Regions from separate parts of the Homo sapiens genome. Here region 1 is linked to region 2. The links come from fine-mapping of genetic effects on gene expression. Tissue or cell type: uterus. Region 2 holds a variant in brackets; the other region holds the start of a gene. All regions are shown on one strand. Distances are between the middles of the regions.

Region 1 (8,086 bases), 910 kb after region 2:
GGACCCTGGTGTCATCTTCGACTCCTTTCTTCCTCTCACTTCCCACAGCCAAGTCTTCGCAAATCCTGCCAGCACCACCTTCAAAATACTGTCGAGCAACAAGCTGACCACTTCTCACCACCTCTCCCCCAAGGTGCATCTCAGCCCAAGCCTCCTAATTGGACTCTGTTTCTCCCGCTTCCTCTCCACAATCTATTCTCAACCCAGCAGCCAAAGTCATATTTTAAAATCTAAGTCACAACATGTCACTGCCCTTCTCCAATGGCTCTCCTCATTCACAGTAAAAGCCAAAGTTCTTTCATGGCTGAGAAAGTCCTACAAGATTTGTCCCCAATGCCAGGCATAGCTTGCTGACCTCCTTTCCTAATCACCCTCCTCTCATTGTGCCCCTGGCACACGGGCTTCCCACTGTTCCTCCACCATGCCCAGTGTGGTCCCACCTCAGGACCTTTGCACCTGTTGTTCTCTCTGCCTAGAACACTCCTCCCTAACAGAGCCACATGGATTACCCCTTCATTTCCTTCAAATCTCTACTCAAATGGTACCTAATTAGTATGGATTTCACAGAGAAGTCTACATAAAAAAGCAACCCCATTCCAACTCTTATATTCCCCATACACAGAGGGCCCTGGCATTAATATTTTTAGACCAACCCATTTCTTGGAAAATCAGACTTCTCAACCCTTCTTAGATATTTTAATCAAGAACTGTCAGGTGGTCATGAGTGCTATAGCTAAAAAGTTTATTATTCATTTGCTATTTATTTTGTCTTCCTCCTTTAGACTATAAGCTTCATGAGGGCAAGGACTTTGTTTTTTTCACGTAGTGCTTGGAATGAATGCATCTCCTCCATGCCTTTTTTTTGCTTTGTTTTTTTTTTTTTTTGAGACCAAGTCTCACTTTTGTTGCCCAGGCTGGAGTGCAATGGCATGATCTTGGCTCACTGCAACCTCTGCCTCCTGGGTTCAAGCAATTCTCCTATCTCAACCTCCTGAGTAGCTGGGACTACAGGTGCCCACCACCACGCCCAGCTAATTTATGTATTTTTAGTAGAGATGGAGTTTCACCATATTGGTCAGGCTGGTCTTGCCTGACCTCAGGTGATCCACCAGCCTTGGCCTCTCAAAGTGCTGGGATTACAAGCGTGAGCCACCAGGCCCAGCCTGATGCCCTAGTTTTAATGACCACTTATAACAAATGACTCCCAAGTTTTAATATTGTTAGCACCAACCTTTACTCTGATGTCCATGACAACTCTTCTTGGTTGTTTAAAGGCATCTGAAACTCAACAGGTACAAAGCTGAACTCATGATCTTCCTCTCCAAGTCTAGGCCTCTTTTCATAGTCTCTCCATTAATTGTCAACACTGCCATTCAATAAATATTTATTGAACACCAACTCTGTGCCAGGCACAGGAGACAGAGCTGTGACCAAAACAGACACTCTCATGGAGTGGACATTTTAGTGGATCCTCCATTCCTTTGGGCAAGCCAGACATCAAGTTAGCTTTAATACCCCTCTTCCTCATCGTGATCCTCCCCATGACTAATCCAGCACCAAGTCGGGTGGATTTTTACCTTCTAAATATGGCTTGACCCATTCCTTTCCTATCTCCACTACCAACACTCCACTCTAGCCCCTATTATCCGTCTCTCATCAGAATGAAGATAACAATCTCCTAACTTAACCAGAATCCACTCTACCCCTCCCAATGCATTCTCCATACTGCAATTCTGATTAATCCCTCCCATGGTCACCACCGCTACCTGGTTGTAAATGCTCAGTGGTTTTCCACTGCTCTTTTACTCTCCCAACTCCAGCCATCATGGCCTTTTCCCATCTTTGTACTTACCATGCCCCTCTTGCCACAGATTCTTTGCACACTCTGTTGTCTGTTCTTGGAAAACTTTCTCCTCCTCACCTACTTAACTTATACTCATTCTTCACATTTCAGCTGTAGTGTAACTTCTTCAAGGAAGCCTTTTCTGATATCAGTCAAACTTTCTGTTAATGAGCTCTCCTAGAGCCACAAATCTCCCCTTCTTAAGCTTCTCACAGTAGCACATTTACATTTACATGTGGGGTTATCTGGTTAATGTCTTCCTCCCCCTAGGCTGCAATCTCCCGGAGAGAAAGGACACATCTGTTGCATTCATCGTTAATCCCAGGGTGTAGAACAGTGCCTGACACATAGTAGAAGAGCAGTAAGCATTTGTCAAGTGGATGAATGAATGAATAGCTGGAAAGAGGATCTAGTAAAGTAATGCACGTAAAGCTCCTAGTATAGTAATCCATACATACTAAGTCTTAATTACCATTAATTATCTTACCCCCTCCACCCAGGGAATTCCCAGAACTTGGGAAGGGAAAGTGGCAGGAGTTAGCATCAATGTCTCACAGTGTAATCATGTCACTGCCATCTGTTTCCTTTCGTTCTATATTCAAAAGGCTATAAATGATTTAGACAAATCCTAGCATACTCTGACCCTCCTCCAAAACCAACAGGCAGATGTTGAGGGAGGAAGGTGAGTGGGCCTTAGGCGATCTTATTTTTCCTCTCCTCATAAGGTGGGGGAAGGCCTGGGAACTGAGTGTGTGGCACCTGAGGCTGTATCTTAAGAGTTTGCATGGTAATCCTAGAGAACCACAGATAGCATCCAAGCCAGATGCCAGTCAGAGAGACCCCCGTCCCGGACTCTCTAATTGATGTCCCAGAGCCTTGGGAGGAGGACATGGTTATCATGCTCAGGTTTAACATCCCGAGTGTCTTCTTCATGGCTGCAAGGTGCAAGCACACAGCTAGTATATGCAACTCCAGTGGGAATGAGACTGGATTCCAAATCAGTGGGAAGACAGAGAATAATGGAAACGTAGGAAAGAGGTAGGAAGAGAAAAATAGGGGCATGTCAAGGCGTCGCTGTAGTGCGCATGACAGCAAGGGACAAAAACAAAAACAGAGATGAGAGAACTCCAGACTTGACCCTCCAAGGGCCTGGACAGGCCATCAGGCCGGGCAGTCTCCATCCCCTGACCTCCTCAGCCTGCACTGATTGGGAGGGGCCTCCTCCCTCCCGCCACCGTGGGAAGAGAGAACATGATTCCCTGCAGATCTGAGCAAAGTGCCACAGCCTCCCAGGATGCTCAGCCCTGCCCTGAGAGCTGGGGTGGGTAGGAGGATGGCAGAGAGCGGTCAAGAGCAGTTATTGCCACAGGACACCGGGGGAAGAAGGCGCTGGAGAGAAGGATGGAAGCAGGCAGGACAAGTTCGGAAGGTCAGATGGGATAAAGGCGTCTTTGGTAGGTAGTTCCCGCTTGCCTTTGACCTCTGTTGAGTCTACAAACAGGTATTATGTGCCAACTCTATTTTGGTTAGGGAGACAGGTATGGGTGTGCCTGGGAGGCTCAGGCTACTGGGTGGAATTCAGAAATACCGCGGGGGACAGTCCTCAGCCCCAAACTCAGCCCACTCCTTCCTCGCAAGCTCCCTGGGCCCAAAGCTTGCCGGGCCTCAGTTTCTCCTCCGAGAAAGGGGAGGGCGAGGCTGGCAGTACCTGGCGGCGTCGGGTGGAAGGCAGGGGGCGCACTTGATGGCGTACTCCGTCCGCCAGCGCCTGTGCCGCGCCTGGAACACCTGGCTGAAGCCGCCGCTGGCCACTAGGCGCCAGTCGCCCTCGAAGTCGTCGCGGGTGAAGACGGGGAGGCTGCCCAGCCGCAGCTCGGTGGGGTCGGCAGCCATTGCCCCTCTCTTCCTGTCCCCGCGCCGCGCACTCCCCGCTGTGGCTGCTGCCTGGGTGGCCGAAGGAGCCGCCGCTTCCTGCTCCTCGGGTCCGGGAGAGGGGAATGGGGAGACGAGCCGGCCCTGCCTCCTTCCCCGCCCAAGAGGAGCCGCTCCTGCCCCGCAAAGGTGGGGAAATCCCAGACATGAGCCCTGAGGCCCCAGCAGGGATGGAGCGACCTGGGCCTGGGGAAGAGGGTATGTCCCTCCGAAGCCCTCGCATTTCCCCTGTCTCAGCCTTTGATTTTCCCCAGTTCCCCCTAGGGAGGGATGCTGGGAGAAGGTGTCCCGAAGCTGGAAGAAGTCCAGCCTGAGAAGTTGGATCCAGTTTATTTAGGCCCAGCGCTAAGTGAAATCGGTTTATGCATTCCTTCAGTGCATTCAAGGTTTTATGGTTTATGAAGGATTCAGGCCTGGACCCCTGCCCCTATCCAGCAAGTATGGGGCTCAAACAATTTTAATGGGGATTTTCTGGTCTGAATCTGTTGGTCTGACTGGTTTCATGTTTCCTTTGTTCTTGTTGGGGTTTTGTTTGTTTGTTTGTTAGCCAGCCTTGGTGTGCTATAGGTTACCAAGGAGGGGTCAGCAGGGACAGAGTTGCGGGGGAGGCTGGGCTCCTGTCTGCAGGGGACTCCCTTCCTGGGCTGCGCTCTATCCAACCTCAGAGGGATGGACCCCAGCCTCGGGGTGGCCACGGGGGAGGTGGCCTCCTTGGCGCAGTTACTAGGGGCAGTTTGTTGCCAGGGATGAGAGGAGGCTCTAGCTGGAGCCTGACCAGTGCTGAGCTTGGAGGTTCCCCTGGGTCCTGGGTCCATGGGATTGCCCTCTCACCTTGGAGACCCTCAGAGCAGGGAAAATGACAAGTGCTTGAACAGACAGGTCTCCCCAGGGGCACTGACCAAGTGGGCCATTGCCCAGAGACAGGCATACCTGGAGGAACTGTGGCCACGGAGTGCAGAGTCAGCCACTATTTGCCTACAGCTGAGTAAGTCCACAAGGAGCCCTCAGAGTGATCACTGTTAGGTTTGAGGAGCCTACCTACCAGACAAGGAAGTGCCTTGCCTTCAGCCCAAACCTGCAGAGCCCCTCGTCCATGCCACAAGCCCACCAGACTCCCAGGGAACAGTGTAGGCATGATAGGCAAACAGAGACTCCCTGTGGAAGCTGGAGAACTTGCTCCCTCTGTAACAACTTACCTGCAACTTCCAGGATGAATTCTGGCAAGCAGATTAAGGATCAAAGATTGGGCCTGGAGACAGTTGTCATAGAAACTAGTGATAGCCACTACTAATTGAACACTCACTTTGTTCCAGGATCAGTGACTATTTCAGTTACTGCATTGCTTTACATATATTATCCTGTTTATCTTGCAACAATGTTATGAGGTCAACATCTTCTATTCACAGATGAGGAAACTGGCTTCAAGACAATAAGTAATCAATGGACACATAGCTAGTAAGTGGTAGTTGATATTCAAACTCAAGTCTCTTAGTTTCTATGGAAATGGTTGGCCAGGGGAGGATCAGGGAGTAGCCTTTTATGAATACAAAAAAGGAAGAGAGAGAGTCATGCTCCCTGGAAGAGGGTGGAGATGATGGAAACTGCATCAGGAGCAGGACGTATCCCCCAAACATATGTCAGAGGGAGGCCCCCAGCTTGCTTTGGCTGGAGCAAGACAGGGCATAACAGAACCCATTGTCTCTGGAGTAGCCCTGCCTGCCCAAGTTTAAAGCCTCTGCCAGAGAAGTTTGGAAGGTGATAAAGGACATTGTCATCAGGGAGACCAGGAGGTCAAGAGGATGTTTCATACCTTCTACTGGGAGGGTGAACATGGAGACTGGGAAGGTGACCAGCCACCCAGCTCTGCGGAAGTTTGACTGAGGCCCGATCTTTGACATTCAGCGAGACCTATCTCAGCTCCTGGAGGAAATACCAAGGGTGAATGGCCTGAGTCATTTCAGCAGTTCCCCTTGATCCACTTATACCTGAAGTGGCTCTCCAGGGAGAGGAAGTAACCAGAAGCTGCCATTGTCTGCCTGCAGAGACTGTCACAGGAATACTGAAGAAAGCATCATTCCTAGAAGAGGGGACACCCAGGGCTCAAGGCATGTTGCCAGAATCCCGAACAAAATACCTCTGAATTTCTCACAGGGGTGGAGGTGGAGGAACTGCAGGGTCAGGGCGTATTACTGCTGACCCACCTGTTGAAACTCTCTGCTGTGGGTTCAAGCACCCCTGAGGCTTCTGAGGAGTCAGTCAAAATAGATACATTCATTGACCCAGAGGGACTGGATCATTTGACTGGGCTTGTCCTGCTCCTTACAGCTGTCTAACATGGGCTAGGGCAAAGGCCTAGTAGTCTTTGGATAAGCTCTGGGAGAAGTTGTAAGTGGAGGGACCCTTTCTGAGTATAAGGTCACAGAGGCAAAGAACTCCTGGATCTCTCATTAAAAGTGGGGTGAGGTATAGGGATTTGCAAAAGAGTAAAGTCAACTCAGAGGCTGCTGGTTTCTTTCCAGTGGTCTGAGTGCAGAAGTCCCTAGGTCCTGGCTGGTTGGGAAGTCAGCAGCCAGTGTGTGGAGGGGAGAGAGCTGGGGGGTTGGGAGGGAAACTCTACCTTTACCCATATCTACCTACAAATGGGAATGGATAATGAAGTGGTTATAGTCCAATTATGACCCCCACCCACCAGAAGGGGCAAGGAACAGGTTCTAGCTATAGAAGTTTTACCCCAAAATGCTCTGAGTCCTTCCAACTAACCTCTATCAGTGCATTTTGTTTGGGCAGATTGAAGATGGAAGTGTTCTGGATTTGGAGTTATTAAATGAATTTTGTGTGTATGTGTGATTGTCTTTGGGGAACCTAAGATTTTTAGCCTGCTCCTCCCAGACAAGTGAGCTGGTACAGGAGCTCTGCAATACTTTAGAAGATGCTGAAATCTGATGTGAGCCTTTCCCCAAACCGGAATGACAAGCTATTTGCATATAGGGAAGTTTCCCAGTCTGCCCCTGTTCTCCACCCTGCAAACATGTCACGGAGAACCCTGGACAGGTTCTGGCAGGCCCCAGCCTCTGGTAGCTTGTGTACTGAGGTTGGTCAGGATAAAGGAATGTATGCAGGAAAGTGGAACATCTGTTCAGGAAGCAGGACTCCCAGAGTGAAAGGGATTGAATGAGGCAATAGGAACAGGGTTTAAATGTGGGAGTGAGTCAGTCAGTCAGACCCGCATTTAAACCCTGGCTTCTTTCTATCACTTAGCATTTGTTTAACCTTGGTCACATTATCAAATCTTTCTGGGTTTCTCCATCTGTAAAATAGATGATAATCATAATAACCATTCCAAAACATTGCTATAAGAATTATAACCTTTAAAAATATACCTAGTATATTAGTATAATATTATACTAATATAACATAAAAATACAATATAATATCATATTAGTTTAATATACCTAGGATATTTTTAAAGGTTATAATTCTTACAGCAACCTTTTGGAATGGTTATTATGATTATCATCCATAAAATATATCTAAATACTAGGTATATTTTTAAAGGTTACATTCCTTAGGTATATACTAGGAATACTCCTAGGCAAAAAATATGAACCAGCTGATACTTCACACCTGAAAAATTAACTCAAAATGAATCATGGACTTAAATATTAAATGTAAACTTATAAAAATTTTAGGAAAAAAAAAGGAGAAAATATTCTGGACCTAGGATTAGATGAAAAGTTCTTAGGCCGAATCCCACAGGCACAATCCATAAAAGGGAAAATTGATAAACTGAACCTCATCAAAATGAAAAACTCTCACTCAGTGAAAGACCTGGTGAAGGTGAAGAGAAGAGTGCAGATGGGGAGAAAATGTTTGTAAAGCACATATTTGACAAAGTGCTGGTTCATAGAGTATATAAGGAGGTCTTCAAACTCAATGCTAAAAAAGCATCAAATTAGAAAATGGGAAAATACATTTCTCTGAAGAGAATATACAGATGACAAATAAGTTCTTGAAAAAATGTTTAATATCATGAGCCACTAAGCAATGCAAGTAAGATATCACTAACTACCTATCAGAATGGCTAAAAATAAAACTGAAAAGATAGTGGCAACGCCAAATGCTGATGAGGATGTAGAGTAATGGGATCACTCATACGCTGGTGGAAATGTAAAATGGTATGGCAATTCTAGAAAAGAATTTGGCCATTTCTTATAAGACTAAACATATGATTACCATACAACCCAGCAATTGCACTCTTGGGAATCTATCCCAGAGAAATGAAAACAGTGTTCACACAAAAATCTGTATATG
Region 2 (8,086 bases):
AGGAGGTGGTCCATGCCCCACCTGCTGTCAAGAGGGCCAAGGAAAACAGCTTGGACAGCATGCCTGCAACTGATTCCCACCCACCTGTGTGTGTGCCCTGGCACACCTAGAGGGAAGCCCTGCTCCAGACACCAGTGCTTCTTCTACTGTAATGTGCATACCACCCTTAGCAGATCTTACAGTGAAGGTTCTGATTCTGTAGGTAGCTAGTGGGGCCTGACAGCCTGCATTTCTAAAAGCTCCCACGTGTTGTCAAACTACTAGTCCAGGGACCACAAGCCTAAGCTATGCATTCCAAGTTCCAGGAACCATAGGTTAAGTAATGCAGCTTCTACAATTTCTTAAGGAAAGAGCTCATTTTCCTCTGTTCATTGTATAAGCTTGAGTAATTGTATCTTAGTGTTTGACTTTCTTAAAACTTTTTTGGATAGTTGTAAAAATGAGGGTTATTTATTTTTATTATTATTTTTTATTATTTTTGAGACAGAGTGTCACTCTGCCAGCCAGTCTGGAATGTGACCACAGCTCACTGCAGCCTCGATCTCCCAAGCTCAAGTGATCCTCTCTCCTCAGCCTCCCCAGTAGCTGGGAATACGGGTGTGCACCACTATGGCCAGCTAATTTAAAATGAGTGGTATTTAAATGCAGAGGTAGAAGAACAGGAGACAGTACATACGTCTTTGGCAGCCTTTAGCACAAGAAAAAACTTCAGATAAAGAAGAAATCATCTTGAAGGAAATAGGTTGTAGGTTGATAAAGCTACTTGAAGATGCAGGAAAGACATGAGTTGCATAGGATCATTATCATTCTTAAAATAATTAAAGCCACAGGATCTAGCACAAGGATAAGGATAAGAATGCAGAAATTTACTGCCAAAAATGCAATGTCCAACAGAGTGATTGGGAGGGGACAGTGTCTCAAGAGCTAGTTGTTCCAAGCTGACATTTCAGGTGTGAGATAAGTAATGCTTTTACTATCCTGCTAGATTGTAAGGGTTTATTTTTGAATGAGATGGAAAGGCCGGTGGTGGATACAGAAAGTGAGAACAAAGTTTCAAAGGCCTTCTTGACAGATGATTTGGACTTTGGCAAGGTGTGTTGTCTAACAGTGACTGAAGATTTATTTACTTATTACAAAGTTTCCCTGAGATTCTACAAACCCTGGGAATTTCCTTATTTACTAAATAACTTTAGATATTGTCCAAATTGTCATAGCTGCAATTGTTTCTAGTTAATATCAATTTCATTCTGTAGAATCACATAGTCAACAGAAAAAAAAGGTGTATGAAATTATTTTTATATTGAAGAATATAGCCCCACTTTGAAGGCTATAGCCAATATAAAATTCTAAGTCAGGGGTATACAGGTTAAAATGCATATGAAAATAGGCTCTCACCGGCCTGGGCAACAGAGCAAAACTCCCATCTCTACAAAAAATTAGCCAGCTATGGCAGTGTGGACCTGTAGTCCCAGCTACTCAGGAGGCTAAGGTGGGAAATCACCTGAGCCCAGGAGGTCAAGGCTACAGTGAGATCTCACCACTGCACCCCAGTGTGGGTGACAGAGCAAGACCCTGTCTAAAAAAAATAGAATAGCCTCTCTCAACTTCTTACTACATGTCAGAAAAAAAGTGGGGCAATATTTAAACAATTTTATGATTTTGTTCATGTGTAAGAGTGACAAAATACATTCTCATATATGCATGGACTTAGAAAACACGTCACTGTATGTTCCTCTTGAAATAAATATTTGAAGATCTATTCAGTTGACAGATGAACCAAAATTAAAGACTCAATATCTAGAAAAATTGTATAAAATGAGCACCAAATATGTCCAAATAATTCTAAATTTGATTACAAACCAAAAGCAAATGTCCAAACTGATCTTGAAAGAAAATATAAAAATAATACTTTAAATTACAATATTTGAACTTTAAAATCTCAGATTTCAATAATAAATACTGGTAAGAGAGATGCCAGGGGACTTTGGTTATCAAAAATTGTTAAATTCCTCAAGTTAGCAGGGAGGAAAACAATTACTAACTTTTTACCCGACTTGATAAGTTAAGAGAATTTGTCTCCAGCAGAACTGCATTATAACTAATACTAAAATAAGTTCTTCAGGTGAAGGAAAATGATGCCAAACAGAAGAACAGATCTTGGGAAAGGAATGAAAAACACTAGAGAAGAAAGATATGTGGGTAAATATAAAAGATCTTAAATATATGCATAATATAGCCTTAGTTAGTTTGGGCTCCTGTAACAGAATACCATAGACTGGGTGGCTCATAAACAACAGAAATTTATTTCCTACAATTCTAAAGGCTGGAAGTCTGAGATTAGGATGCCAGCCTGGTCAGGGTCTGATGAGGACTCTTCTGGGCCACAGACAGCTGACTTCTCATTGTACCTTTATATGGCAGAAGGAGAGCTAGAGAGCTCTATGGGGTTCCTTTTATAAGGGCACTAATCCCATTCATGAAGTCTCCACCTCCATGACCTAATGACCTTTCAAAGCCCCGACCTCTTAATACCATCATAAGGGGGTTAGGATTTCAACACAGAAATTGGGAGGGAGGGATAAAAACATTCAGTCCAAAATTCCTATGTTTAATATATATTGTTATATACATTGTTTAAAACTGTATACTGACTTATGTGACTATACTTAACACTATTCAACTAACACTTAAACATAGTAAAGATGGTAAATTTTATTTTAAAAATCAAAATTAAAAATAAGACAATAAAAATAAATAAAATCACTACTAACTAAAGCAAAACTAATAACAATATATGTATTATAGTGTTATACATAGAAATAAAATACATGACAAGAACATAAGGGCCAGGAAAGTCGGTTAAGGAAATTACACTTTTGGAATATCTTACATCCTTCATGAGACAATAGATATGTCAAGGATGCATATTGCAATTCCTAGAAAAACCACACAAACTCACACAAGACACAGAAGAGGTTAACAGGGGAGATAAAAAATAAATACTAAAAATATGTACACTTATACTAAATGGAATACTAAAAATTACTGCATTCACCAAGGGAAAACAGGAAGAAAGACACAGGTGAACAACAATCAGATGGGACAGATAGAAATCATATACCAAGATGGTAGATTTAAATTCAACCCTGTAATATTAGTAATTACATTAAATGTAAATGGACTAAACAATCCAGTTAGAGGCAGAAATTGTCAGTCTGGATTAAAAAGAGAAAACATAATCTGAAAACAGAAGGGTAGAAAAAGATATGTAGATATATCATGTATATTAGTTATATGTAACTGCAGGATAAATTATCCCCAAAATTTAGCAGCTAAAAATGACAAACACTTATTTCTCTGTTTTTTCTGGTTCAACTGGGGGAAATTTGGTTCCAAGCTCACT[C/T]CCCAGGACAAGAGAGTGAGATAGAGACAGAATACCCAATAAAAAGCTGTCATTTTTTAAAAATTGATTTTGTTTTTTACAGCAATATTAGGTTCACCGCAAAATCAAGCAGAAGGCCTACATTGGCATACCATTATCACCCAAAGTCTGTAATCTACGTTAAGATTCACTCTTGGTATTGTACATTCCATGGATTTGGACAAATATATAATGACATGTGTCCACCATTATAGTACTGTACAGAGTAGTCTCACTGCTCTAAAAAATCCTCTATACTCCACCTATTTATCTCTCCCTCCCCGACCCCTAGCAACCACTTATCTTCTTTACTTCTTCCCTAGTTTTGCATTTTCCAGAATGTCATATAGTTGGAATCATACATGTAGCCTTTTAAGATTGGCTTCTTTCAATTAGTAATTGTATTTACATTTCCTCCATGTCTTTTCGTGGCTTGATAGCTCATTTCTTTTTAGCACTGGATATTATTCCATTGTCTAAATGTACCACAGTTTATTTATTCATTCGCTTACTGAAAGACATCTTGGTTGCTTCCAATTTTTGGCAATTATGAATATAGCTACTATAAACATCTGTGTGCAGCTTTTTGTGTAGACATACCACAGCTTTTTGGGTTACATACTGAGGAGTGTAATACATGCAGCTTTCTGGGTTACATACCAAGGAGTGCAACTGCTAGATTGAATAGTTTTGCAAGGAATAGTCGAATTGTCTTCCAAAATGGCTACACCATTTTTAATTCCCACGAACAATAAATAAGAGTTCCTCTTTCCCCACAGCCTCATCAGCATTTGGTGTTGTCAGTCTTCCAGATTCTGGCCTAGATCTAATAGGTGTGTAGTGGTGCTGTAGTCCTTTTAATTTAATATCACAATTGATATCCCATCACTATGCTGCATTCTACCAAACTTGTCAGTACTGAATCACTAAATCCAGTGGATATTCTAGGGAAGGGGATTACACAAAGGTGAAAATACTGACACAAGGATTATTGGGGGCCATCTTAGAGGCTGCCCACCACACCATGCAAAACAGCAAGCATAGGAAGGGTGATGTAGCTATATTAACATCAGAAAAAGTAGACTTCAAGACAAATACATTGCTGGAAATAAAGGGAGATATTTCACAATGGTAAAGTGGTCAGTTCATCAAGAAGACATAACAATCCTAAAAATGTATATAACAGAGCTAAAAACAAGTGTCAAAATGCATATAGCAAATGTTGACAGAACTATAGGGAGCAAAGGATAAATCAACAATCATAGTTTGAGACATTAACACTCTCAGTAATTGACAGAGAAAGTAAACAAAACGTCAGTAAGGATGTAGAAAATTTGAATGATACTATCAACCTGCCTGACTTAATTGATATTTATAGAAACTATATCTACAACTGAACAATATACACTCTTTTCAATGTAGAAAGCACATAGAACGTTTACTGAGATAGACCATATGCAGAGCCACAAAATAAATCTCTGACTACAACAAAATTTAATTTGAAAGCAATAACAATAAGATAGCTAGAAAAATCCCAATACTTTGGAAATTAAGCAACATAATTCTAAATAATTCATGGTCAAAAAAGAAATTACAAAGGAAATGAGACAATATGCTGAATTTGAAAATAATAAAAATACCACATACAAGAATCATGGGATGCAGTTAAAACAGTGCTAAAGGAAATTTGCAGCATTAAATGCCTACATTAGAAAAAGAGATATGTGAAATAAATGATATAAGTTTCCAACTTAAGAAGCTAAAAGAAGAATTAAAAACAAGACATTTTAGAAAGCTAGAAAAAAATAAAGTAAACTAGAAAAGAATTAAAATTAAAATAACTAGAAGAAAGAAAGTGATCAAAAATAAGAGCAGAAAGCAATGAAATAGAAAATGGACAGACAATAGAGAAAAATCAACATAGCCAAAAGTTGGTTTTTGGAAAAGATTAATAAAATGATCAATCTGTAGCAAGGTTGATCAAGACAACAGAAAGAAAACAAGACAAATTACCAATATCAAGAATGAAAGAGGAGAGATCACTACAGATCCTACAGACATAATAAGGTATTAAAAGGATATTGTAAAAAAAAAAAAATGCCAATAAAGTTGACAACCAAGATAAAAAGGACAAACTTCTTGAAAAGTACCACTTACCAAAACAGACAAAAGAACAAACGGAAAATCCAAGTAACCATTAAAGAAATACTGTTTTTAATAAAGTCTTCTCTCGCACAAAAATTTCAGATTCACCTGGCTTCGCTGGTAAATGCTATCAATCATTTAAGAAGGAAATTATACTAATAATACTCAAACTCTTTCAGAAAATAGAAGAGGGGATATCACTCCCAACTCATTTTATGACTCCAGCCAGCATCATGCTGATATCAAAATTTGTGAAGCACACTAGAAGAAAATTATAGCTCAATTATACTTCATGACCAAGTAGTTTATGCCACTTTGGTGTAACATTCAAAATTTTCCAATGTAATTCACATTTTCAGAATACAGGAGGAAAATCATAAGACCATCTTAATAAATGCAAACAAATTTTGACAAAATTCAACATTTGATTAAAATTTCAAAAAAGCTAGGAATGCAGAACTTAGTCTGATAAATAATATCTATGAAAAACCAATAGTTAATATACTTAATGATAAATCATTGAACATTTTTTATCCTAGAATATGGAATAAGGCACAGAGGTCTGCTGTCATCATTTCTATTCAATATTGTATTGAAAGTTTTTGCCAACATAATAAGGGCAGAAAAATAAATAAAAAGCATAAAGTTGGAATAGAAGAACAAAACCTATTTTTATTTGCAGATACTATAATTGCAAACATTCATCTTTTTATGCAGCTTGCAAAGAAGTCTGTGGGGTCTCAGCAATATGCATAGCAGCAGAGAAATGTTGCTCCAGGAGTGAATGGTCAGTTGGGGAACAGACTGGATATTGTCAGACAATCAGCAGAAGATGGAAGTGCATAAGGATATGAGAAAGACAGTGAATTGCAGGCGTGGCTACCTCTGGCTAATAGGCTATTGCCAATTTCTCGTGTTGGAAGAAATTAAAATTTACATGAACAAATGAGATTCATTTGCATAAATTTACATGTAGATGTGGTAGTGTAAGATCTTGACCATTAGTTGTAAGTATACAAAGTCTACTTTCATGGATGGTGATTAATAAATTCTTTTCAAGTAATTCCTTTATGTTTCTTACCTCAGTTTAAAAACCTAGTCAGATTTTGGTTGTATCTGGTGATGTCAGCATTAGCCACACTCACAGCCAAGTTCTATAGGCTTGGATGGCTACAGCAGCATGGCAGTGAGGCAAGGGACAAGCACTGACATCCAAAAGCTGCTGGTGAGAAGCTGGGTTAGCCTTTTACTTGCAGCTGTCCTAAACCTAGGTCCCAAGGTACTTGACTGCACACTGCTCTTGTCCCCAAAGGCCTGGAAAATTTGGGGGTTTACTCCTCTTTGCTCAGTATCCATTTCTTCAACCCTCTCCCTGTGTCTTCCATTACTCTGGTGCACACATGCACGTGCACATACACAAATTTACTAACATGCACACACATGGGCCTATCTCATCTCTCTTGCTCTCGCTCTCTCGTTACCACTCATTCTCCATTTGGATTTCTCTTTGGTCCCTATCTGTCTGTTGCTTTTGCCAACCATCACTCAGGTACCTTCAAAAGCCAAGAAGTAGACACCAGTTTCTCTACCTGTTCCCTTCAAGATCACACACATAGGTCACCACTGGGGACCAGTCAAAGGCCTCTGGCTCTTTCTTCAGCCACTTCTCCAGCTCCTGCAGGTTCTGGTCTGAGTAGTCAGTGACGACGATCTCCTTAAAGGATTCACAAGCAGAGAGGAGCTGATAGATAGTGGGGCCAGAGCCGATGTCAATCAGCAGGTCTCCCTTCACACCGTCTGGATTAGTGGGAGGAACAAAGAGGAGAGATCAGGCATCTCATGGCAGTGGGCAGAGTCAAATTTACATTGTCTTCCCTGGGACTGTGCTGGCGATCCTCAAAGACAGACCACTACTGTTCACAACTTTTCCCTCAAAATGTTTTTTTAAAACATCTTTTCTGGGCCAGGCACAGTGGCTCATGCCTACAGTCCCAATACTCTGGAAGGCCAAGGCAGGAGGATCACTTGAGGCCTGGAGGATGAGACCAGCCTGGACAACATAGTGAGACCTCATCTCTACAAAAAAATTTTAAAATTAGCTAGGCATGGTGGCGTGTGCCTGAAGACCTAGTTATTGGAGAGGCTGAGGCAGAAGGATCCCTTGAGTCCAGGAGTTCGAGACTATGATGAGCTGTGATCACATCCCTGCACTCCATCCAGCCTAGGCAACAGAGTGAGATCTATATCTCCAAAAAAAAAAAAAAAATCCCATATTTTCCCCAAATCCCTGTAATTTACATCATAGTGACAAAGAAAATATAAATATCAAAAAGACTAAAAATGTCTCACTTGAATTTTAAATAAAGCACATCAGTTTGAAAAACCTCAAACTTTAATAAAATTTAAAGTCAAAAAGAAAAAAAAAAAACTTTTCATTTTTTATTCCCCAATCCAGGGTGGAGGCATGTTGCCAGGAATTTTAAGGTCTAGGAGAAGGTAAAAAAGATCTACATCTGGTGT

The links. PIP is the estimated chance that this variant, and not a neighbour inherited with it, causes the effect.
Region 1: it holds the start of ANKK1, and the variant in region 2 is fine-mapped to the expression of ANKK1 in uterus (GTEx, PIP 0.97).

Annotation. Positions count from the first base shown.
Region 1 is chr11:113,383,535-113,391,620 of GRCh38, reverse strand. It overlaps ANKK1 (ankyrin repeat and kinase domain containing 1), which reads right to left and starts at 3,842. Exons shown (of 8, transcript NM_178510.2): 1 at 3,552-3,842. The coding sequence starts at 3,736.
Region 2 is chr11:114,297,228-114,305,313 of GRCh38, reverse strand. NNMT (nicotinamide N-methyltransferase) reads right to left here. Exons shown (of 3, transcript NM_006169.3): 2 at 7,156-7,363. Among named protein-coding and RNA genes, the nearest start is that of NNMT, 4.9 kb to the right of the region's middle. The variant C/T (reference allele first, on the strand shown) is at 3,404.